2 separate regions of the Homo sapiens genome follow, and region 2 is linked to region 1. The links come from fine-mapping of genetic effects on gene expression. A gene starts in region 1. The other region holds a variant in brackets. All regions are shown on one strand. Distances are between the middles of the regions. Region 1 holds the start of TSGA10 (testis specific 10). Region 2 holds the start of MITD1 (microtubule interacting and trafficking domain containing 1).

Region 1 (12,366 bases):
GGGCTTCAGTGATCCTCCTGCCTCAGCCTCCCAAAGTGCTGGGATTATAGGCATGGGCCACTACACCTGGCCCCAAATCATTTAGTTAAGTAATATCTTAGAAGTACAATTCTAGATTAAAGAGTCTTCATATTTTCATCACTCTTGTTGTAGTTTATAAACTAACCTACAAAAAGTTGAATCAGTTTACATTCTGTCTAGAAAGGTGTGGAGAGGTTTAATAGAGGAAGGAATACTTGAACTGAGTCACCAAATCTGATAAGTTTGCCAGGTCGAGGAGCATATTCCAGGCATATGCAAAGACAAAGAGTCATCTAATAGTAAGGTATGTTTGGGGATTCCCTCCTAAGAGAAAGAGTTACACTACTAGTCTTCGACTTCCACTTAAGCCTATGGCTATACTGTCCTAGGAAGCCTCGCAACCGAGACTGCATTACTTTGGTTAACCTCTTTGTTCTTGGTTCTGCTTGACTGACTTTGACACAGTACCATATTCATTCAACAAGTATTTATGGAGTTCCTACTAGGTACAAGGTAATAAGGAGATAGAAAATGGGAGGAGATAAATTCATGTAATGAACCAAAATATTTGGACTTTTTAAAAGGCAGCTAAGATCCACTGAAGTGTTAAGCAGGAAGTGTTAACTCAGCTGTTATACGAATCTGCCTCTGCAGGGTTGAGTATGGATTAAATAAAGGATGGACTAGGGACAGGGGGAACAGTTAATGGACTAAGGCAGTTGTCCATGCTAGAGATAATGAGGGCCTAAAGTACGGTAGGAGAGAGAGAGAGAGAGAAGGGGATGGATATGAGTGACATTAAGAAGGTGAACTGGCCGGGCGCAGTGGCTCATGCCTGTAATCCCAGGACTCTGGGAGGCCGAGGCAGGCGGATCACGAGGTCAGGAGATCGAGACCATCCTGGCTAACACAGTGAAACCCCGTCTCTACTAAAAATACAAAAAATTAGCCGGGCATGGTGGCAGGTGCCTGTAGTACCAGCAGCTCTGGGAGGCCGAGGCAGGCGGATCACGAGGTCAGGAGATTGAGACCATCCTGGCTAACACAGTGAAACCCCGTCTCTACTAAAAATACAAAAAATTAGCCGGGCATGGTGGCGGGCGCCTGTAGTCCCAGCAGCTCTGGAGGCTGAGGCAGAAGAGTGGTGTGAACCCGGGAGGCGGAGCTTGCAGTGAGCCGAGATCGTGCCACTACACTCCAGCCTGGGCGACAGAGCAAGACTCCGTCTAAAAGAAAAAAAAAGAAAAGAAGGTGAACCTGTCCTTGCCTTCAAGAAACAAGTACCTCCACAATCTAGTGGGAGATACTAAAAAACAAGTAAGGCAATAATTAAAATACAGTGTCCTAAATGCTGTGATAGGTGTTAAGTACAGTAGAGCGCCATCTAATGCTCTAATTAGTGGATGTGACATTGAAGCTGAGACATAAAAGGGATAAAGAAAAGAATTCTAACAATGTGCAACAGCTTAGTGGAAAAGGAGATAGGACCCATGCAAATAATTTAATTCTACTGGCTGGTTATTAGGAATACAAGAATGGGGAGTTAATAAGAAGGCAAGAGAAGTAGATGTTAGATTATAAAGAACCTTAAATCCAAGTGAAATGCTTGAACTTTATTGCCCAGGATGGAGTGCAGTGGTGTGATCACGGCTCACTGCAGCCCCGACCTCCTGGGCTCAAGCAATCCTCCCCCTTTAGCCAGCATGTGCCACCACGCCTGGCTATTTTTTTTTTTTTTTTTTTTTTGTAGAGATGAATCTCACTTTGTTGTCCAGGCTGGTCTCAAACTCCTGGGCTCAAGCAGTCCTCCTGCCTTGGCCTCCTAAAGCACTCGGATTACAGGCATGAAGGCTTTGGATTTATACTTCAGGGACACCGCCTAGAGATTTTAAGCATGGAGAATGTACAATACTTGGCAATAGGTTGAATTAGGGTGAGAGAAAGAGAAGTCAAGCATCATGTCCTTTATGATATAATGATTACAAGCTCAAACCAGAGTGCCCTCATTCAAATCCCAACTCTATCCTTTATCAGTTGAATGACCTAAGGCAGATTACTTTTCTATGTCTCAGATTTGTTATCTAATATGTGGATAATGACAGGACTCATCTCATATTATCAGGCTGAGTCTGATGAGCTAATACATATAAAGTGGTTAGAAGAGTGCCTGGCACTGAAGAAAGTACACAATATGTGCTAACTATTTTATTAATATTATGCCCTGATTTCTGGCCTGGCAAAGAGGTGAAATTTCCTAGGACAGATTTTATAGGAAGAGGAAGTATGGGGTTAAGATAATTGGTTCATTTTGACTGTTGAACTAGCGGCCAACGGCACAGAGCTCAATGGATGGTAACTGAGGCCACAGGAAGGTGGTTCAGTGAGAAGATTTAAGGGCCTGCGACATAAGACTGAAGAGCAGCAACATTTAACGGACATACAGAAGAAGGAGGGAGAGCTCCCAAAGGAAGCTGAGGATAGAAGAAAAGGCAGAAAAATTTTAAATATGCTATTATGGAAGCTTCAAGGAGACAAGATGGTCAACAGTGCCAAATGCCAAAGATTGAGCAAATAAGATGAGGGTTGAAAAGGATCTATTAAACAGTATCAAGAAGGTTATCAGTGATCTTGGTAAGAACCAGATGTACTGAGTAAATAGGAGGCCCAAGGTGGATACAATGAGGGTATTCTAGTTGTGAAGTGGAAAAGCTAGGGCAGTAGGTAGAAAGGAATGTGGAGTTAGGAGAGGACTTAAGATGCAATAGATCTGAGCATGTTTAGATGCTGGTAGGGGAGTCAAGAGAGGGCAACACTGGAGAAGGGAGGTCCTTGAGAAAGTGATGGTACTGGGATCCAGAGTTCAGGTAGGGGCAGCCTTAAAGGAGAAAGTAACAAATAGGAGTGGTGGTCACTAATAAGCTGGATGGTGTCTGTGGATATGGAAATTGTCAAAGATCTTGTGAAATATCTTTTCCCAAGATTAAGGCTCTTACTCTTGTCTGCATGTGCAGAGTGTGGCAGGATGGCAAAGTAGTTAAGGACTTAAATTTTTAATCCTGGCTCTGCCACTTACTAATGACTTTAGGGAAGTGGTTTAACCTCTAGCTGCTTCAGTGGCCTCAGACGTCATAAAATGGTTGAGAGAATTAAATGTGTTAATATGCATAAGCCATTCATGTTTGGCAAATATGAAATGTTAACTGTTATGACAGGGTTCTCCCTTTCCCATCTCTATTCTGTGCTTACTGTTCCTATCATATACCATGTATTCCCTCAAGTGAACAAAGATTCCTAACCAAGACACATCAAAGTGGCATTTACCTTGATAAATTAACTATAGTCCAAGATATTGACTTTGGTCAAAAATGTGATCTTGTTAGGGTTCCAGAATTGATCCAATTCATGTATTGAGCCAATGCATGTATTTTAATAGTGCTAAAAATATCTCTCTTCATCCAGGTATTGTATATACAGTGTGAATAAAACACAACAAAGGTATTAATTCAACAAAGTTTTCATCAATTACATGACAGACATTGTTCTTAGCACTTGGGAATCATCAGTGAGTCAAATGAATAAAGGTGATAAGGAGGGCTATTAAAAAAAGTAGATGGCCGGGCGAGGTGGTTCACACCTGTAATCCCAGCACTTTGGGAGGCCAAGGTGGACAGATCACCTGAGGTCAGGAGTTTGAGACCAGCCTGGCCAACATGGTGAAACCCCGTCTCTACCAAAAATACAAAAATTACCTGGGCGTGGTGGCAGGCGCCTGTAATCTCAGCTACTCGGGAGGCTGAGGCAGGAGAATCGCTTGAACCCGGGAGGTGGAGGTTTCAGTGGGCCGAGATGGGCTGGGCAACAGAGCGAGATTCAGTCTATTAAAAAAAAATGTAGAGCTGATAAAGGGAGGATTGTAACTGTGTATGTGAGAAAACTTACATTGCAATTTTAAATAGGGTTGTTAGGCTAAGCCTCATTAAAAAGGCATCATGTGAGAAAAGATGCAAGAAGCTGTTCTAAGCACCTGAACACGTAAACCAATAAACAGACCTCAGTGAGGATGTGACATTTCAGTTGAACCCCGAAAGATAAGAAAAAATCACACAGAGTGAGAAAAAGTGAAAACAAAGGGATGTCCAAAAATCCCTGACTGCCAGCTTATTGATTTACAAAGAGAACTATAGACCATCTATCAGATATTCAGATGAGCCTGTGCAATTATTCACTGTAGGTCTGGTGACAAGCCAACTCTTAAGTTTGCTTGGTGAATACATAATCAGAAAAGGACTGAGTTACATGATATGAACGTCTGACGGAATGGGCTCTGGGGAAGACACTTCCTTAACTCAGGAGAGCCCCTGCTCTTAAGCCGGGATACCCTCTCTCCCCTAGAGAAGGCGTGGATTCATCTGGCACAGGTGTGCCCCTCTTTTTTTATTCTATGCTCCAGTAGCGGATCAGACCCCGACTGAGTAATGCACGGTATTTCAGGATATTTCACAGTCGTTGGGATAGTGTCAAGCCTTTGAAGTTCTGGTTAAATTTTGTTCCTTCAAAATCACTTTGAATCTTTCTACTCTCACCCTTTAATGACTAATTTTTTGAAGTTTTTCCTCGGAAGACTTCCTTACCTTCCATGTTCTTGGGACACTTCGCTACCTCTGCACTGCCAAACACGGCTCCCCATCACTGAACTGAAAGCGAAAACAGCACAATCCCATCTATCTTTCTAGGCAGGCGCAGCTTCTTCATAAGACCTCGCCAAGACCCTATTATTTTGTCCCCTCTCTAATGATATACAACTTACTCAGAATCTCATTACGGTCGTGTGCATGTTTTACTTCGCCCTTTTGGCTCCCAGGGGGCGTGCACACAGCTAGCGTCCAACATGTTTTACGATATTTACCCTCCCTCCTGTGTTCGGGATCAACCGTTCCTAACAGTGAAATTAGGTCGTCCCAAGTGCTGAGGAGAAAGTGTGCACACAAGAGGCTTCAACACCGGCGGAGGCGACCCGCAAGTCCTGACCCACCGCCAGAAACACCGCGCGCGCCCAAGACCCCACGGCCGCCCACGCGCTACGGCCCGCAACATCCCGGTTTGAAGCGTTTCCGCTTCACCCACCTGCGGCTTCCGGTCGTACCCACGGCCTCGTGAGGGCTCGAGCTGGAAAAGTGCGTCATACGACCCCGAGCAACCGGCAGGCCTTGCGCGCGATGCTGCCCCGCCCCCTGAGGGCCGGCCCCCTGAAGCGCAAGAGAAGGAGGGGCGCGCAGGGATCGCGCCTAGTCTCTCCGCCTGCGGAGCCGTGGGGTCCCGGCAGCCCGCAGGAGTGCTAAGTAAGGGTCCTTCAGGGCGGGAACCAGGTTCCAGGCAGGGACGCAGGCTACGTTCGAATAAAAGTACCGAAGGTCATAAGGCCCCAGTTCAGATGGGACTTCCCCGCGTGACAGCACAGAGATAACGGCCAGCCCTGGGCGAAGGTAGGAGAGCGGGCGTGCCAGGTTGGAGGGGTCATTTCGTGGAGCGAGTTTAGGGGGAGCCCCCAGAAGCCCAGAGCAGTCAGGTCACACGACGGGCAGGAAGGAGTACCAGCAAATACTTTTTATTGAGCATACAGGTATTACGCTGGGTCTTTACATATCTCCTCCAAATAAGTGAGTCCAAATGGCAGGTAACTCGAAAGGTGAGAAATTCAAGTCAGCTTTGAAAGACACATTGCATTTAAAGGAAAAACGGTATTCGCAGATGATAATACAGGATGGAGTGGATCAGAAAACACACTGAGGCTACTGATCATTCCCATTTGCCAACTCACTGCAGTTGGCAAGAAAACTCTGTGACTCCATGAGATGGGAAATTACACCAGCAGTCAAGGTAGCAAGGTAATAGTTTCGGCTAAGTTTTGCTGCATAACAAACTGCCTCAAATAGTGGTTTATATCTCTAACGTGGGCAAGGTGGGTGATTCTTCTGCTAGTTTCTCCTGGGCATATTCATGTGGCTTCATTCAGCACAGGTTGGCTACGCTGGGCGGTCCAAGATAGCCTTATTCATGCTCTGGCAGGTGCTGCCTGGCTGCTAGGGCATCTCAATTCAGGCCTAATCTTGGAAGCAGCGCCTCAGCCATATTCTATTGGCCAAAACAACAACAAAGCCAGCCCAGAGTTAAGGCGTGGGGTAATGGACTTCACCTCTTGATGAAAGAAGCCCAAAGAATTTGTGGTCACCTTTTTCAACCTTGCACAGAAATTAATCTCTCCTTCAGTTAAAATAGAAACCACTAAGACTTGCCTCTTGGAGTAAGAATCATTCAGTGTTCAGTTTGCTGATGCTGATACGGTAAATGACCAGGGCTTCATATAAAGCTACAATGAAGACATAATGACACCTCCTTTCTTTATTATCACACCTTTTACCAAGGTCACTCTGAGTAAGTCTATCTTGTATTATGCAGGTGGGAATGAATTTTGTTCAGAGTTAACTGCACTAGGAATTTTCCTAGTTATTATTAAAAACAGTCACAGAATATTGTTGCTCTTTGCTTATATTACTTCCTTCTAAATTCCCTTTCTCTGAAATCTGAGATGGTACAACTTTGGTTTTTTTTCCTAGTTTCTTGATGAAGAGGTTTTAAAGAATCCCATTCCCTCCTCCCTGCTCCAGGACTTCTGTCCCTTGGTTATTCTTACCTTTACCTACTTCTTCAGCTTCTCCACTGGAACCTTTCAAGTGACACTCAAACATGCTGTACTCTTTAACAATCCTCCAGTGACCTCATTTCTCTTTCCACTTGTCATCCTGTCTGCTACCCTTCTGAGCCAAGCTTCTTGGAAAAACTGCTATACATCCAGTATCTACTTTCTCACTTCCCATTCATTGTTTCAACGTACTCCAAAATGGCTTTTCCCCATTATTCCAGCAAAAGTGCTTTTGCTAAGGTCACGGGTGACATTCATATTGCTAGATCCACTGGACTTTTCAGTATTCATCTAAGTGTTCATTTGACTACCTCAACCTGGAGATTCCTGTGGACAACTTTGACATTACCCTGTCAACTCCTCAGTCCCTTTTGCCAGGTTTTCCTCCAGCCTCACTGCCAACTCCGCAGTCCCCTTTGCCAGCTACCCTGATCTAGTCAGCCCTAAATGTTGGAGTTCCTCAGATCTTTATCTCACACTACATTTTCCTTAAGCAATTTCATTCATTCTATGGCTCTAAGTACCATTTCTGTATACAACTTCAAAATTTATATTTTTTAGTTCCATAGATACAACTGCCTTGTAAACCTGGTAAGTCTAAAAGCCATGCTCCTGAACTCACTCTTTCCCCCCAGGGATCCTGCATGCATAAAGGCTAAAGCCTTTTTTGCCAGAAGCCCTTTCTTCTTCCTCACTTTCCGCTTCCAAACCATGACTACATCCTGTCAGACTTCACCTGGACTCTATCCCCTTCTCTCCACTTTTATGACCATCACCATCATTCACTTAGACAACCATGTCACTGCAAAAGCTATAAATGTCCTCAGAGGCTGCTCTATGGAGTAGCCATTCTGTTTCTTTACTTTCTTAATCAACTTGCTTTCAAAAATGTCCTGAGATACGCTTTCCCATTTCCCACGTTAAAATCAAGTTTATGGCCCAGTGGGAGGATCACCTGAGGCCAGGAGTTTGAGACCAGTCTGGGTAACATTGTAAGACTCTGTCTCTAAAAAAATACAAAAACATGCTGGGTATGGTGGCACATGCCTGTAATCCTAGCTACTAGGAGGCTGAGGCAGGAAGATCGCTTAAGAACAGGAATTCGACACTGCACTGAGCTATGATCGCTCCACTGCACTCCAGCCTGGGCAACAGAGTGAGACCATCTTAAAAAAAATCAGTTTTATGTGGTATGTCTTGTGTTGTGTTATGTCCCTCTGAATGCTATACGTTTCTTCATGGCATATCACAATTTGCATCTTATATAATTACTGTATAATCTCCTGTCTTTCCTAGTAGACAGGCACAAAACTCTACAAGGCACTGGCTATTTTATTCACTACTGTATCTCCAGCACCAAGCACAGTGCCAGGCTAGGTGAACAAATGAATGATTTATGTATTTTTTTTCTCTTCTAAAGAATTACGTTCTGTAAATAATAAAAAGCATTGTCTTTTTGGCTTATGTCCCATTCAACAATTGTTTTTCACTCTCAATATTCCCTACAAACACATTTGTTTAGTATTTTTCTGATTAATAAAATATAGCTTCCCCCCGGAAAAGATGCCCTTTCCTCTTTTAAAATGAATATTAAAGAGATTTCCAACTACCAGATATTTTCATAACTGATATACAAAACAAGGTTTTTAAACAGGTTGTTTTTTCTCATATTAAATATTGGTGACATAAAATGGTACCATCTGCAAGACAAACTATTAACACTTGGAAAGAACACTTTTCTAACTCTAAAATGGATTCTATGTGGGGGGAAAAAGCAGTTTTAAAGGCACGATTTAAAATGTGAAATCCTTCTGAAGATATGCAATTTATTGGTCTTTTGCAGTTTATTGGCAGTGATCTTTTACAGAACAAAAATGCAAAATGTAAGAAAGTAAAGTATCATAAAGCAGAATCCCAAAATGGAAATGTAACATACAAAACTGATACACCAGAAATATTGTGAAATACGGATGTCACATTGCTTGGACTTTTTTTTTTTTTTTTTTTTTTTTGAGACGGAGTTTTGCTCTTGTTGCCCAGGCTGGAGTACAATGGCATGACCTCAGCTCAGTGCAGCCTCCGCCTCCAGGGTTCAAGCGATTCTCCTTCCTCAGCCTCCCAGGTAGCTGGGATCACAGGTGCCCACCACCATGCCTGGCTAACTTTTTGCATTTTTAGTAGAGATGGGGTCTCACCATATTGGCCAGGCTGGTTGCGAACTCCTGACCTCAGGTGATTGACCCGCCTTGGCCTCCCAAAGTGCTGGGATTACAGGTGTGAGCCACTGCGCCCGGCTGCTTGGACACTTTTTTTAACCACTTGTTAAAGAAATACATTAAAATGAAAATGTTTTGATGCCATTCAAATACTGTTACTTAAAAACTCTGGTTTTTAAGAAGGATATAATATAATACCAGAGAAATCTGCTTTGAATCTTGGAAGGCTTTTTCACCCTAAAGCAACTGCCTTTTGAATAAGCATCATAAAAAAATGCAGTGTAAGATGATTCACAAATAGTGCAAAATAAGGCAATAGTCTTCCATCATTTTGTCAGGGTTTCCTAATAAGGTTAAGTTCTCTTTCAACACCCCCCTTAGTCAAAGGCAGTTTTTGGTTTCTTTGGTAATACGTACAAATTGCTTCATTCCACATCTGTCATTTCTAGTCCATCACTTTCTTTGACATATACCACTGAACCCAAGGCTTTCCCAGAAAGAGATCCTGTGCCAGTCCCTTCAATCCTTGTAAAGTTTTCTTGATTTGTGTCTTCTAATCTTATTTTCTTGGTGTTTTGAAATAACTGAGTCGCTGGTTCCAACCTGCTTTTTTCAGTCCCTCGTATTAAGTGATCATCCACTTTTGAATCCATATGTATAGCAGATACCTGAGTAGCAGATTTACTAAGTGAAAATCCCATTAGGATAGCTGAACAAATGTGAAAGTAATTTGCAGGTACCTTTTTAAGTAGTGGAAGTGTTTCTTCAACTTGATTACTGAAAAAAAAAAAAAAAGTAACAAGTGAATGCAGCAGGAATTTCCCTAACTTCATGGCAATGTTTGTTTGAATGAAAAGCTGTGGTGATACTAGAAATATAAAGTAAAATTGCCTCCTACCTTTCAGTGTTTACATTTTCTTTGTGGGAGGGTTTGCAGGTTCTAAAGATTTATTTGAAAGTCTTTTTAAAAGGAAATTTATCTGATTGTATGTTTTATCACCTTTCAGAAAATAGTAGAGCTTCTCTTAGTCCTTTCTTTCATTCTTGCTAGCGAAACCTCTTTATTCATTACTAATGGGCTAAAGAAATAACGACTGAAGGCCAAGTACTCTGCTAGTACTTTATTTTCTGTAAAAAATAAAGATGTCCTATAAAGATACTTGTGATTGGCTGGGTGCGGTGGCCCACGCCTGTAATCCCAGCACTTTGGGGGCCGAGGCGGGTGGATCACCAAAGGTTAGGATTGAGAGACCAGCCTGGCCAACATGGTGAAACCCCATCTCTGCTAAAAATACAAAAATTAGCTGGGTGTGGTGGCATGCACCTGAAATCCCAGCTATTCAGGAGGCTGAGGCAAGAGAATAGCTTGAACCTGGAAGACGGAGGTTGCAGTGAGCCAATATTGCACCACTGCACTCCAGCCTGGGCGACAAGAGCGAGACTCTGTCTTAAAAAAAAAAAAAAAAAAAAAAAAGATACTTGTGATTAAGGATGTCTAGTCTGTAAAAAGAGATGATCGGCCGAGCGCAGTGGCTCACACCTGTAATCCCAGCACTTTGGGAGGCTGAGGTGGGTGGATCACGAGGTCAGGAGATCGAGACCATCCTGGCTAATATGGTGAAACCCCATCTGTATTAAAAATACCAAGAATTAGCCGGGCGTGGTGGCGGGCACCTGTAGTCCCAGCTACTCGGGAGGCTGAGGCAGAAGAATGGTGTGAACCCGGGAGGCTGAGGTTGCAGTGAGCCGAGATCGCGCCACTGCACTCCAGCCTGGGCGACAGAGCGAGACTCCGTCTTAAAAAAAAAAAAAAAAAAGATGATCATGTAGCATGGAGGGAGGCCTTGGGAAGTTTCCCAAAGGAGGGGAGCCTAGGTTAGGGTTTCGCTTTCAAAGATGGGCAGGAATTTGGTAGGCAGAGTTGACCAGGATGGCAGAAGGGACAGGCTTCCTGTACAGAAAAGGTTTGAGAAAGCCCAGGGCTTACTGGAGAAGAGTGATCTACCCAAGATGCTATAGTAGCAACCTGAGATCTGGAGCAGATTCCACAGCTTCGATCGAAATCCCTCACCCATTTTTTTTTTTTTTTTGAGATGGAGTTTCACCCTTTCACCCAGGCTGGAGTGAAGTGGTGCGATCTCGGCTCACTGGACCTCCACCCGGCAGGTTAAAGTGATTTTCCTGCCTCAGCCTCCTGAGTAGCTGGGATTACAGGTGCCCGCCACCAGGCCCAGCTAATGTTTGTATTTTTATTTTTATTTTTATTTATTTTTTTTCCAGTCTATATTTTATTTATTGTGGTAAAATATATATAACATTTACCATTTTAAACACTTTTAAGTGTACAATTCAATGACATTGAGTACATTTACATTTTTGTGCAAACATCATGGTCATCCATCTCCAGAACTTTTAATCATCCCAAACAGAAACTCTAACGTTTGTATTTTTAGTAGAGACGGGGTTTCCCCATGTTGACCAGGCTGGTCTTGAACCCCTGACCTCAGGTGATCCACCCACCTCAGCTCCCAAAGTGCTAGGATTACAAGCATGAGCCACTGCGCTCAGCCTCACCCACTTTTTAGAATGTATTATGTCTTTAATATTTACCTACTGTGGTATCTTTGATAGTTTACAATTTCATACTCATCAAGCTGTAATTACTGACTGAACATTTCTAAAGAATCATCTTGAAACCCTGTTTATCCATATTTGTGACTGAATATCAGTGTTTATAACAAAACAGAGTCCTGGGTCTACTGTAGTAGCCTAAATATAGTACTTACTCAAATATTAATATAACAATTAGGTAAATAGTATATATTTGGCTTTCTGGGACTCAAATACAACTTAGCTAAATTTTTTAATATCTCTGATGAAATTCTGAAATATGGGTATATTTGATTTTTAGATTTGGAACTTGAAGATGAATTTTTCTTCCTCATCAAAGGAATATCTAATACTGCCTTCAAATGAATAAAATTGAGTTTATTCTATTTGGTTTCTCTTTTTCTTAGAAAGGAAATACTCCTGTCAAATGCATAACTTGAATCTAAACATGAGGAAACAATCAGATAAACCCAAACAGAAGTATCTTCTATGAAACAAATAGCTTCTACCTAAAAATGTCAATGTTATGAAAGACACAGAGAGGCTGAGGAACTGTTTCAGATTAAAGGAGGCTAAAGATACATTATTTCAGATGCAACCAATGCTCTTGAATTGGGAAGGGGATGGAATGTACTACAAAGATCATTACTTAGATAACTGAAACATTTGGATATGGGACAATATTAGATAATAATATTGGATCAATGTGATAAATGCCATGAATATGATAATTGTATTGTGGTTATATAAGTCAATGTCCTTGTTCTTAGGAAATACATACTGAAATAGTTAGGGGTGAAGAATTGTATCTGCAACTTG
Region 2 (12,366 bases), 30 kb before region 1:
TCACCAGAAGCTAGGGAGAGGGGAAAATGGGGAGTTACTATTATTATTAATTTTTGAGACAGGATCTTGCTCTGTTGTCCAGGCTGGAGTGCAGTGGCACAATTATAGGTCACTGCAGCCTTAACCTCTTGAGATTGAGCAATCCTCCCCGCTCAGCCTCCTGAGTAGCTAGGACTACAGGTGTGTACCACAACACCCATCTAATTTTTTTTTTTTTTTTGGTAGAGACTGGGTCTCCTTATGTTGCCTAGGTTGGCAGTTATTATTTAGTGGATATAGAGTTTCAGTTTTGCAAGATGAAAAGAGTTCTGGAGATGGATGGTTGTAATAGTTGCACAACAGTGTCAATGTACTTAATGCCATTGAATAGCACACTTAAAAGTGGTTAAGATGGTAAATGTTATATGTGTATTTTACCACAATAAAAAATATTAGGAACCCCCCACCCAAAACAAATAAACAAAAAACCCAGGCTTTACAAAGCTAAATGTAGTCTTTACCATACAATCCAGCAATTATGCTCCAGGTATTTAACTCATGAGTTGGAAATTTATGTCCACACAAAAATCTATACATGAATGTTTATAGCAGCTTTGTTCATTACTGTCCAAAACTAGAAGCAACCAAGATGTTTTTCCATAGATGAATGCACACATAAACTGTGTATGTCTATGCAATGGGATATTATTCAGCAATAAAAAATAAGCAAGCAAGCCACAAAAAGACATGGAGGAACCTTACAGGTATATTGCTAAGAGAAAGAAGCCAGTTTGAAAGGGCTACATACCATATGATTTCAGCTATATTACATTCTAGAAAAGGCAAAACTATGGAGATAATAAAAAGATCAGTGCTTGCCAGGGGTTAGGAGTTGGGAAGGATAAATAGGTGAACCACAGGTGATACTTAGGGCAGTGAAACTATTCTGTATAATACTGTAATAGTGGATACATGACATTATGCATTTGTCAAAACCCATAGAACTTCACAACATGAAGACTGAACACTAGTGTAAACTATGGTATTTAGTTAATAATACTGTGTCCCGTTGGTTCATCAGTTGTGGGGGACACTGTATATGCTGGGCGGAGGGAGCACATAGGAACTCTCCATACTTCCCAATCAATGTTTCTGCAAACCTAAAACTGCTTTAAGAAATAAAGACTATTAATTAAAAAACAAATAAAAACAGGCCAGGCGCCTGTAATCCCAGCACTTTGGGAGGCCAAGGCGGGTGGATCACTTGAGATCAGTAGTGCAAGACCAGCCTGGGCAACATGATGAAACCCCATCTCTACTAAAAATACAAAAATTAGCCGGGTGTGGTGGCACGGGCCTGTGGTCCCAGATACTCTGGAGGCTGAGGCACAAAAACTGTTTGAACCCGGGAGACGGAGGTTGCAGTGAGATGAGATTGCACCACTGCACTCCAGCCTGGGCAACAAAGCAAAACTCTCTTTAAAAAAAAATTTTAAACAAAAATCAATGGCGGGCTTAGTCAATATTATCTAAAAGAATGATAGGTACACAGAAATGAAATAGAAAAAGCTGAAAGATCCAAAGTAACAATGATCGATACGGAAAGTGAAAATGAAGAGTGACACAGTGAGAGCCTGAGTAGGAAGACCCACTGCTTTCTCAGGACAATGGTGATACCAACACACATGTACAAACCACAAGCAGGAATAAGTAGACTGAAATAATAAAAACCCATTACTGTGAAGGCCAGTGACACAAGTGACAGAACAGTTTTATTTTTATGATCACCATTCACATAAATCCCACTATGCTTTAAACTCTGTACCATCACCTACATCCACATATAATTTAACATAAAATCTTCCAATATTACAAAAACGGGTACCACTTAAAACATTTTTTAAAACAACACTAACATTAAAAAAATCAAACTTTGTTCTTACTTTTTCTGGAATTCTTGATCTGGTGAATTTGTGACGAATCCAATCTGTACAAATAAGAGACTCCACACCTTTTGTCACAGTCTAAAATATGATATAAATCATTTGTTTTTTAGAATTCTGTCAGTAGAGAAATCCATACCCACCAATCTTTAGGTAACAGAAGTCTGTTCCAACCTACCCTATAATTATTAAAGGTATATCTTAGCTCCCTAGCTGAGTGAACGCATCCCATCTAAGCACTAACATAATATAAAGCTAAAAGCATATAAATATACTTTTAGACCACGGATTGGTAACCGTTTTCTGTAAAGGACCAGATAGTAAACATTTCCAGCTCTAGAGCTATGTAGTCTCCATTGCCAAAACTCAGCTTGGCCATCACAGGGTAAAAGCAGTCAGACAATATGCAAACTTTTCTTTTTTTTTTTTTGAGACGGAGTCTCGCTCTGTCACCCAGGCTGGACTGCACTGGCGCAATCTCGGCTCACTGCAACCTCTGCCTCCTGGGTTCACGCCATTCTCTTGCCTCAGCCTTCTGAATAGCTGGGACTACAGGCGCCCACCACCACGTCCAGCTAATTTTTTTTTGTATTTTTAGTAGAGATAGGGTTTCACCGTGTTAGCCAGGATGGTCTCGATCTCCTGACCTCGTGATCCGTCCACCTTGGCCTCCCAACGTGCTGGGATTACAAGCGTGAGCCACCGCGCCCAGCCGGGTGTGGATATTTTTCAATAAAACTGTTATTTACAAAAATAGGTGGGAGGCTGAATTTGGCCTAAAGGCCATAGTTTATCAACTCTTGCTCTAGACAATGTGCAATAACTCACATTTAACAAGACAATACAAAAGAAATCCAAAATGAGTTTCTAGTTTCCCTCCTAGTTCTAACAATGTCATCACTCCTAGTTCCTACCTCTTGTTCCTGCTCTACATTCCTCCAATCCCATTTCTCTCAGGCTGCTGAAGAAAAAGGATTCACTGCCAACCTTTCATACCAGGATACTGCTGTGGGAATGGGCAACAGTCATTCCCATCATTCCCTCCCAGCATTTCCTGCATTGCAGAGATGGCATAAACCACTAGAAGACAGGCACTGGGCTGAGTTCTGCTGCCTACCAGCTGTGAGACATGAGACACTTACTCTCTCAGAGGGTCAGTTTCCTCAGCTCTAAAAAGGAACTCATATTGACCTCACAGGATTAATCTGAGGTTAAGGTAATATATACAAAGCCCCTTACATTGTTGTCCTCTGCAGCCAGGAGCAGGTCAATAGGCTCATCTAGGCTCTGGCCCTTATGAGCAGATTAGGCAGCACCACTGCACTTTCTAAAAGCAAGCCTAGAAGGAGACACATGAAAATACTAACACTGAGGGTCTCTTACAGATTATTTCTCTTCCTTCTGATTTTCTATATTTTTCTAATATTTTATTATTGAAAATGCACTCCTTCCATAATCTAAGGGGAAAAACAACCTAAAACTTTAAGATTAAGACAGACCAAGGGGAATCAATGACAGCCATTTTTTATTGGCATGTTTTCCAGAAAAAGATCTTTTTTGATTCTAGATCTTTAGGGATAAAACAGCAGAAAAACCATACATAAACAAGATTAACTCTCAATATCTAAACCATTTCGAAAAGGAACTGGTGAAATAACTTAATTTTGGGTGGCCGGGGCAGGTGGATCACAAGGTCAGGAGTTGGAGACCAGCCTGGCCAATATGGTGAAACCCCCGACTATATGAAAAATACAAAAATTAGCCAGGCATAGTGGCAGACACCTGTAGTCCCAGCTACTCAGGAGGCTGAGGCAGGAGAATTGCTTGAATCAGGGAGGCAGAGACTACAGTGAGCCCAGATTGTGCCACTGCACTCCAGCCTGGGTGACAGAGAGAGACTTCGTCTCAAAAAAATAAAAAAAAGAACTTAGCTTGCCTTGTAATGATTAAAAAAAAAATTCATAAGGGGTAGAAAAGACAAATTCTTGAAAAGAAACACTTACCTGTAGTCTGCCTGGGGGCCATTGAACTACTAAGCGCAAAATCCCAGCCATAAGTGTAGTGATTGCTCTCTTTAGAGGCTGTGGGAAGTAGGAAGTAGACCCATCAGTCAACTATGTCTTGGAAATGAACAGGTTTCCCCTTCTCTAGTATTAAAAAACTAAGCAGCAAATTAATTGTAAACTTAACAGTAAAATTATTGGTTATTTTAATATAATAAGGGCACGAATTAATTTATAAATGTTTTATTCAACCACAGGTAGTAATTATACACATTAGCCACATCCCACTTTCATCAAATGAGTCAGTCCTAGATTGATTCCACAAAATTACTATCATTTAAAGTGTCTTCTTCAACAATGAAGGCAGATAAAGAATGCTTTGCCATAGAATCACAGAAAATTAAAGAGCTAGAAGGGACTGAAGAAATTCCAACTCCTATAATTAGAACTGACTGCCCACATCCTTACTTTATGAATGAGGATCATGAATTCCAGAAAGTTCAATAACTTATCCAAGTGCATCCAGCTATCAATAAAGTTTGTGGTCTGGAACCCCATTCTCCTAATTCCTAGGCAAGTGCATTTTCACTAAATCATAACACCTTTCTGTTAAAAAGTAGAATTTTTTTTGCTTGTTTGTACTTTTTAAACTATTCTCAATGCACACGCATTGCTTCTATAACCTAAAAAGGTCATATTTATTTAATTACACACAAAACAACTGTAGCCTACTATACTGACTTATACTGATAGCAGAAAGATTAAGTTCATGAACTACATGTATATCTCGGACAGGTTACTTAATTCGTGCGTTACAATTTTTCCCCCAGAAAAGAAAGAAAATACCTGTCTTGCAAATGAGTTATTCTACAAAGCACCTAAAACAGTACCTGGCATGTGGGAAGCCCTCAATAAATAGTAGCTTTTATTATTATTAAATTACTACAAAGCTAATAAGAATACTCTTAAAACTGCAGTCCCCAACCTTTCTGACACTGGACCAGTTTCATGGAAGACAATTTTTCCACAGATAGGGAGGGGTGGAAGGGAAGGTTTCCGGATGAAACTGTTCACCTCAGATCATCAGGCATTAGATTCTTATAAGGAGCATGCAATCTAGATCCCTTGCATGCACAGTTCACAGTAGCGTTCACGCTCCTATGAGAATCTAATGTTGGACTGCTCTGACAGGTGGTGGAGCTCAGGTGGTAATGCTCACTCAACCACAGCTCACCTCCTGCTGTGCCATCTGGTTCCTAATGGGCCAGCAAATGGTCTGGGTCTAAGGCCTGGGGTTTGGAGACCTCTGCTCTAACACACTAAAATAGGCTAAGTGTTGTAATTCAGTGTCCCGCAGATTCTAGCTCATTCAAGTTCTGCAAGTCTTTCCTGTGATGTGGATAAAGCAACGGAACTGTGAGAATCAACGCAAGACATCTCCTGAAGACAGCCAGACCTCAGAAACATTCCTCAGCAACTGAACCTATCTAATGCTAAATTATTTTACCAGACTTCCTCGTATCAAGGTTAGGTACTTAATCCAACATACTTAGCTTCACACTTTAAAAAATCTTTCTGATCACTTAGATCTCAACAAAATCCTAACTGGACTTCTGCTTCCATTCCAATTCCCCTAATATCTTTTTTGTATATCAGCAATAAATCATCTCATTAAATCTTAGATCATGTCACTCTGCTCAAAAATCTTCCAGAGAGCCAGGATTCTCACTGTTGAAGTGGGAGGTTACATATAAGCAAGAGGGGAAGGCTACAATGATCCTTATATACTAGATTGGAAATGGAACTCATGTTTAGCTTAATATAGCTATTGAGGGATATAGAAGTAATTACAGATATGCATATATACATGGGCTAGCTCTGTTAGCTGAGAGGACTTAAAGCACTAGCACTCAGTGGCAAGGAGCACACCCAGTGCCCAGATCTTGGCTGCATTCTTTAATAAAAGGAACCAGTGCTCCTTTGAGAAATGGCTGATTATGTCTGGAGCACTTTGTAATGCTAGAAAGGAACTACTGGAAAAAACATAACGATGGGGTATGTCAAAGTGACACTGCAGTCAACTGTACCCAAAGCTGGAACAATTTCAGCAACAAAATAAGTAACAAAGTATTACTGGCTTATAATCCAAACCAAAATAAATAAATAAATAACCCTAAATTCATACTAATATAAATAGGTGAATAAGTTAATGAGAAAGAACAAATATCCCATTCAGAAGAATTCCAAATAATTTATGTAGGTACTCTCTTCCAGTATCTTCCCAAACACCTAACTGCCTCAAAACTGTCAATGATATCAAAAACAAGGAAAGTCTGAGAAACTGTCACAGTTAAGAGGAGCCTAAGGAAGAAGTCATGACCATTAAATGTAATGTGGTATCCTGGATGGGATCCTGGAATAGCAAAAGGACATTTGGCAAAAACTAAGTAAATCTAAATAAAGTATGGACTTTAATAACGTATCAATATTGGTTCATCAACTGTACACAGGTATACCAAACATGAAAGGGGGAAACAGTGTAGCATATACAGAAACTCCATACCATCTTCACAACTTCTTTGAAAATCTAAAACTATTCAAAAATAAAGTTTATTTATGAAAAAATTAAAACCTCCAATGCTTGTCCATTTTGATCACAGTGAAAATCAATTTTTTTTTTTTTTTTGAGACAGAGTCTCGCTTTGTCACCCAGGCTGGAGTGCAGTGGCCCAATCTTGGCTCACTGCAACCTCCGCCTCCTGGGTTCAACCGATTATCCTGCCTCAGCCTGCTGAGTAGCTGGGATCAGAGGCACCTGCCACCACGTCCAGCTAATTTTTGTATTTTTAGTGGAGACGGGGTTTCACCATGTTGGCTAGGCTGCTCTTGAACTCCTGACCTCAGGTGATCCGCCCGCCTGGGCTCCCAAAGTGCTGGGGTTACAAGCATGGGCCACCACCCCCAACTCTAATTCTTAACCCTCACCCTCTCATGTCTTTGTAGTACAGCACTACCAACCTTCCCCACCTCCAGGACTCCATCTCCAATTACTCTCTTGCTCAATCACCAGACATGCTGCCCCCCTTGTTTGATCTAGAACTAGTCAAGCAGGCATGCTCCCTTTGACTGACCATTCCCTCTCCTGGAATGATCCTGATATTTACATGGCTAATTTCCTTATCTTTTTCAATTTTTGGGTCAAATCTCACCTTTTCAATGAGGTCAACCCAGATCACATCATTTAACATTTTCACCCATACCCCAACTGTCAACACTCCCAATTCCTCTTCACTGCTTTCTATCGTGCTTATCTTCTAACGTAACTTAATTATCTGTTAGGTTTTGTTGTTTAGTGCATGTACATTCAATAGCACGCTAATTCCATAGGAAAAGGGTTTTTAGATTTTGTTGTTTTGGGTCTGTTATATTCATAGAAGTATCCCAAACATCTGTGTAAAGCGGTATCTGCCCTATAGCAGACATATAATATATTTTTGCAGAATAACTGAAGTTTAAATATTTACAGACTTCTGAAG[G/T]TGTGATAGTCAAAAGTTACAAGTTTTTAGAGACAGAGTCTCGCTATGTTTCTGGTATTGAACTCAGCCTCAAGCAATCCTCAATTTTCCCAGTAATTGGAGCTAGGTGTGTGTCACCACGTTTGACTCAAAGAATACGTTTATTTTATCTTATTTATTTTTTTGAGACGGAGTCTCGCTCTGTCGCCCAGGCTGGAGTGCAGTGGCACGATCTGGGTTCACTGCAAGCTCCGCCTCCCGGGTTCACGCCATTCTCCTGCCTCGGCCTCCCCAGTAGCTGGGACTACAGGCGCCCGCCCGGACGCCCGGCTAATTTTTTGTATTTTTAGTAGAGACGGGGTTTCACCGTGTTAGCCAGGATGGTCTCGATCTCCTGACCTCGTGATCCTCCCGCCTCGGCCTCCGAAAGTGCTGAGATTACAGGCGTGAGCCACCACGCCCGGCAAGGAATACGTTTTAATAAAGTAAAAGTTACTGTTAATAATTAGGCACGTAACTCCTGGACCCTGAAACAATTACGCTGTCTTCTGTAAAACAGGAAAATATCAGGCATCACAGGAGAAGTATGATCCCATTTCTATTTTTTTAAATGTCTGTGAACGTGTGTAATCACAGAAAAACTCTGGAAGGTTGTCAGAAAAACGTTAACATACCCCTGGGGGTATGAAAAAAGGCGTTTTTCCTCCCCCTTCTCCCCCCCAGCGACCGATAGTTCTTTTGTCTTTTTACAATGAGCATGCATGCAACAGGAATGTTAAAAATCGATTTCTTTTTCTAAACCGACAATGTATACAATTATTAAAGGGGGAAAAACACTTCTGAAATGCAAAACATGGAATCACTCTTGCAGAGATACCAGAGATCTCTGAAAGCTGGAAGCGTGTCTCTTCTCTGAACTCCTAGTGCCTAACAAGCAGTAGGCAGCCCTCATTACTGCCTCTTGGCAAAAAGGGCAGAACAAACAGCTTTTGGTAGGTCTCGATCAAAATGGTAACAAATCACAGTTTTAATAAAATGGCAAATATTCTAACTGCCAACTCTTGGATGTTTGCATTATAAAATGAAGCAATACAAAGATAAAGGCAATTTTCTGTCTTCATTAAAAAAAAAAAAAAGCAACCTTAATACCCAGTGGCAACCCTAAGTTATGAATAAAGCAGCAGCACAGAAAATGCTGCTTGGGTTCCCTTTCCCAAGCTGTCCAGCCTCGGCGGCTCCGTTCTTGAGCTCCAAGAGTCTGGGCACAAAAAGCCGCGTGGCCCTGGATCCTGCAAATTGGGAAACGGGGGGATCCTGCAGGCCAATGGCCTTACGGGAGCCAATGTGACGGGATCAGGGGCAGACCCATTTAGGTTGCCGTAACCGGCCAATTCAGTACGCAATAGGGAAAATCAATTAGGATCTGCAGAGGGTTCCCGGATACACCTTGCGAAGAATGCCGCACTCTCCGCCACTCATTCCCCACTCACCGGCACCCGCTAAACCTTCAGCCTGAAATTTTCCTCCGAAGGGAAGCAGAGCAGAGGAAGAACTACCAAGTGCTACACTCAAAGCCTGCCGTCGCAGTGAGCGCGACCTCCAAACTGAGGCATTTTTGTTCCGGCGAAATCCCTCCCACTCAGGAAAGTCCCTAGAAAGAGAGCGCAGGCGCCTGGGTATCACATGACCACTTCCCGGAAGCGCAGCAGACCCGCTCAACTTCATCCTGGGTTGAGGCGGAGGAGAACTTCCAGAATTATGGCGAAGTCCGGGCTGAGGCAGGACCCGCAGAGCACAGCTGCAGCCACTGTGCTAAAGCGGGCAGTAGAACTAGATTCGGAGTCGCGGTATCCGCAGGCTCTGGTGTGTTACCAAGAGGGGATTGATCTGCTCCTGCAGGTTCTGAAAGGTGAGCAATGAGCCAAGGCGGGGAGGACCTGAGGAAAAGGAGCTGGTTCCTGCTGTGTCTGGGGTGAAGTGAAAGAGTTAAAAATGATTTTTCCACACCACGAAGAAGCAGTTAAATACAGAAGGTGGGATATTCTATAGGACAACTGGGCCGCTTTCTTTTAGATCTTTAATAGATTGATGTTACCTAGAAAAGGTGGGGAGGCTACTAGTCTAGATTTTAAAAGACTTAAGAGATATAAGATATAACGCAATGTAATATATAAGCTTTGATAGGACCTGGGTTTGTACGAACTTTAAAAGACATTTTTGGATCTATTAGAAAAGTTTGAATATAGATTGGGGGGCATTAAAATTATTTTCTTAGGCAATATGATTTTTTTTCCAAAACTTTCCTTAATTTTTAGAGATGCAGACCAAAGTGTTTTAGAAAGAGATGCTATGATGTCTTTAGTTAATTTTCCTTAAGCAAAAATTTCTTAAAAATCGAAGCTCTATTTGAGCAAAAATGCTAATTTTAAAAATTTCGGTGATGGGTAATAAGGGTGTTTATTATACGATTATTTTTAATTTTCTGTTTAAACATTTGCATTTAAAGCAAGCCAAAGTAAAATTATGTAGCGGTAGAAGAAGAAAAGTTTTTCTTAAACGGATGAGGTTCGGTGTGAGAAATGCGCAGGGTTGTGGAGGAGACAAGTGAGACTTTTCGTATTATTCAATGTTGAGAAATACCCAAATATTCCTTAACACCCAGCACAACCCTGGCTCACAGTAGACACTCAATATTTATGTATTAAATTGATAAGATCAGCTCCTGCTCCCCAACCCCCGACACTCCCGGTCTGGACTAAGCTCCCTCTGTTCTTTCTAGTTTAAGCTTCTTATAATTAAAGTGTTACAGAAGCTTTGGGGCAGCAGAGGGGAGCCCTTTATGGTTTGGTGCTTTGGTCAGAACTACAAACTCTACCGGCCGGGCGCGGTGGCTCACTCCTGTAATCCCAGCACTTTTTTGGGAGGCCGAGGCAGGTGGATCATGAGGTCAAGAGATCGAGACCATCCTGGCCAACATGGTGAAACCCCGTCTCTACTGAAAATACAAAAATTAGCCGGGCATGGTGGCACGCACCTGTAGTCCCAGCCACTTGGGAGGCTGAGGCAGGAGAATTGCTTGAATCCGGGAGGCGGAGGTTGCAGTGAGCCGAGATCGCGCCACTGCACTCCAGTCTGCCAATAGAACAAGACTCCGTCTCAAAAAAAAGAAAAAATAACTGTAAACTCTACCTTGCCTGGGGCATTATTTGATGATAATGATGACAGTGACAACAGCAATAAGCATAGATATCACGTTTCAGTGCTGAGTGCCAGGCATTGCAGAAAACATTAAAAGCATGATCTCGTTTCATCCGTACCAATTGCCCTATCAAGTAGGAGTTGATGGTATTCTCGTTTTACAGCATAAAAAGTATTGTTCGCTTTCAAGTTCTGCCACTAGGAGGTGGTAGAGTCACAGTCGGAGCCCAAGGCCCCAACGACTCTGGTATACTGAATCCCAAAAGAGAGATGGTGTACTGTGTTGGTCAGGTGGAACACTGCTCAAGTTTTGGCTGCACTAGGAATCTGAAGCAGGAGAATCACAGTTCTGCTCTAGGGTGCTTCACTGATCCCGTAGAGGTTACAGAGACAATGATGTCACATAGATGGGTTAAGACCAAAATGCAAATAGCGCTAATACAGGGAATAAGTGCCAGGAGAGAGATATCTATAGATAAACGCAATGAGGATTTAAACAGTTAAAGGTCATGTGAGGGTGGAAAGGTAGAGGTGGAGTTTGATTGGGGCTTTGGAGGAAAAATAATTTCAGAAGTCAGAAATTCATCTAAGAGTCTTCAAATTCCTGTGCTGTCTTACGAAATAAGTAGTTTGGTTGAGCATGTATCTGAAGAGGAAGAGTGAGAAGTAAAGTTTAAAGGTAGATAGGGGCTTGGATCACATTGAGGATGGCCTTGACTACCAGGAGATTTTAACTTATTCCACAGGCAAGGAGAAACCATTTAAGGTTTTTACAAAGGAGTAACATAATTGGAGTTGCATTTCAGGGCTTGTCTCTTTCAGGAATGTGCTCTTTTCTCACAGATATTTATTTGCATGGCACACTCTCTCTCCTATTTCAGGCCTTTACACAAATACCACCTTCTTTGTGAGGCTTTCCCAGACCTCCAGTGTAAAATTATAACCCCATCCCAGCACTCCCTGTCCTCCTTCATTATTTTATTTAATAGCACTTACCTCAATCTAATATACATGTTTTGCCAATTTATTTTTATTGTTCTCTTCCTACTTGAACAATAGAAGAGAATTTTGTCTGTTTTACGAACTGCTGTATCCACAGCACTTAGAACAGTGCTGGGCATGTTGTTAGTTCTCAATAAATATTTCTTGAATAAAGGACTGAATATGGCAAGGATGTAAAGTAGACATTAACCTGTAGAGACTGAAGTTAAGCAGACCAATTAAGGAGCTCCTGCTGGAATCAAAATAAGAGGTGTGTATAGCCATTATAGAAAACAGTATGGAGATTCCTCAAAAAATTAAAAAGAGAACTACCATATGATCCATTGATCCCACTACTGGGTATATATCCAAAGGAAATGAAATCATTATGTTGAAGAGATATTTGTACTCCCAAGCTTACTGCAGCACTATTCATAATAGCTAAGATAGGGAATCAACCCAAGTGTCTATCAGCAGATGAATAAAGAAAATATGGCACATATATACAGTAGAGTACTGTTCAGCCATAAAAAATGAAATCCTGTCATTTGTGACATGGACAAACTTGTAGGAAATTGTTAAGTGAAATAAGCCAGACACAGAAAGACAAATACCACATGATCTAACTCATATGTGGAATCTAAAAAAGTTAATATCATAGAAGTAGAGAGTAGAATAGTGGTTACCAGAAGCTGGGAAGGGCAGTGGGTAGGAGGAATGGGGAGAGGTTGGTCAAAGGGTACAAAA

Evidence for each region. PIP is the estimated chance that this variant, and not a neighbour inherited with it, causes the effect.
Region 2: its variant is fine-mapped to the expression of TSGA10 in whole blood (INTERVAL, PIP above 0.99).

The regions. Positions count from the first base shown.
Region 1 is chr2:99,147,831-99,160,196 of GRCh38, reverse strand. TSGA10 (testis specific 10) reads left to right here and starts at 5,255. Exons shown (of 21, transcript NM_025244.4): 1 at 5,255-5,504. It overlaps C2orf15 (chromosome 2 open reading frame 15), which reads right to left. Exons shown (of 4, transcript NM_144706.4): 4 at 8,528-9,714. The coding sequence starts at 9,638. The coding sequence ends at 9,363. LIPT1 (lipoyltransferase 1) reads right to left here and starts at 5,230. Exons shown (of 2, transcript NM_145199.3): 1 at 5,146-5,230. RefSeq lists enhancers at 4,653-4,702, 4,733-4,812, 4,893-5,092, 5,123-5,352, 5,413-5,612 and 1 more.
Region 2 is chr2:99,177,814-99,190,179 of GRCh38, reverse strand. It overlaps MITD1 (microtubule interacting and trafficking domain containing 1), which reads left to right and starts at 9,122. Exons shown (of 7, transcript NM_138798.3): 1 at 9,122-9,349. The coding sequence starts at 9,199. It overlaps MRPL30 (mitochondrial ribosomal protein L30), which reads right to left and starts at 8,996. Exons shown (of 6, transcript NM_145212.4): 1 at 8,931-8,996; 2 at 3,926-4,003; 3 at 1,923-2,003. The coding sequence starts at 3,976. RefSeq lists a silencer at 8,615-8,787 and enhancers at 9,005-9,054, 9,075-9,304, 9,315-9,454. The variant G/T (reference allele first, on the strand shown) is at 7,462.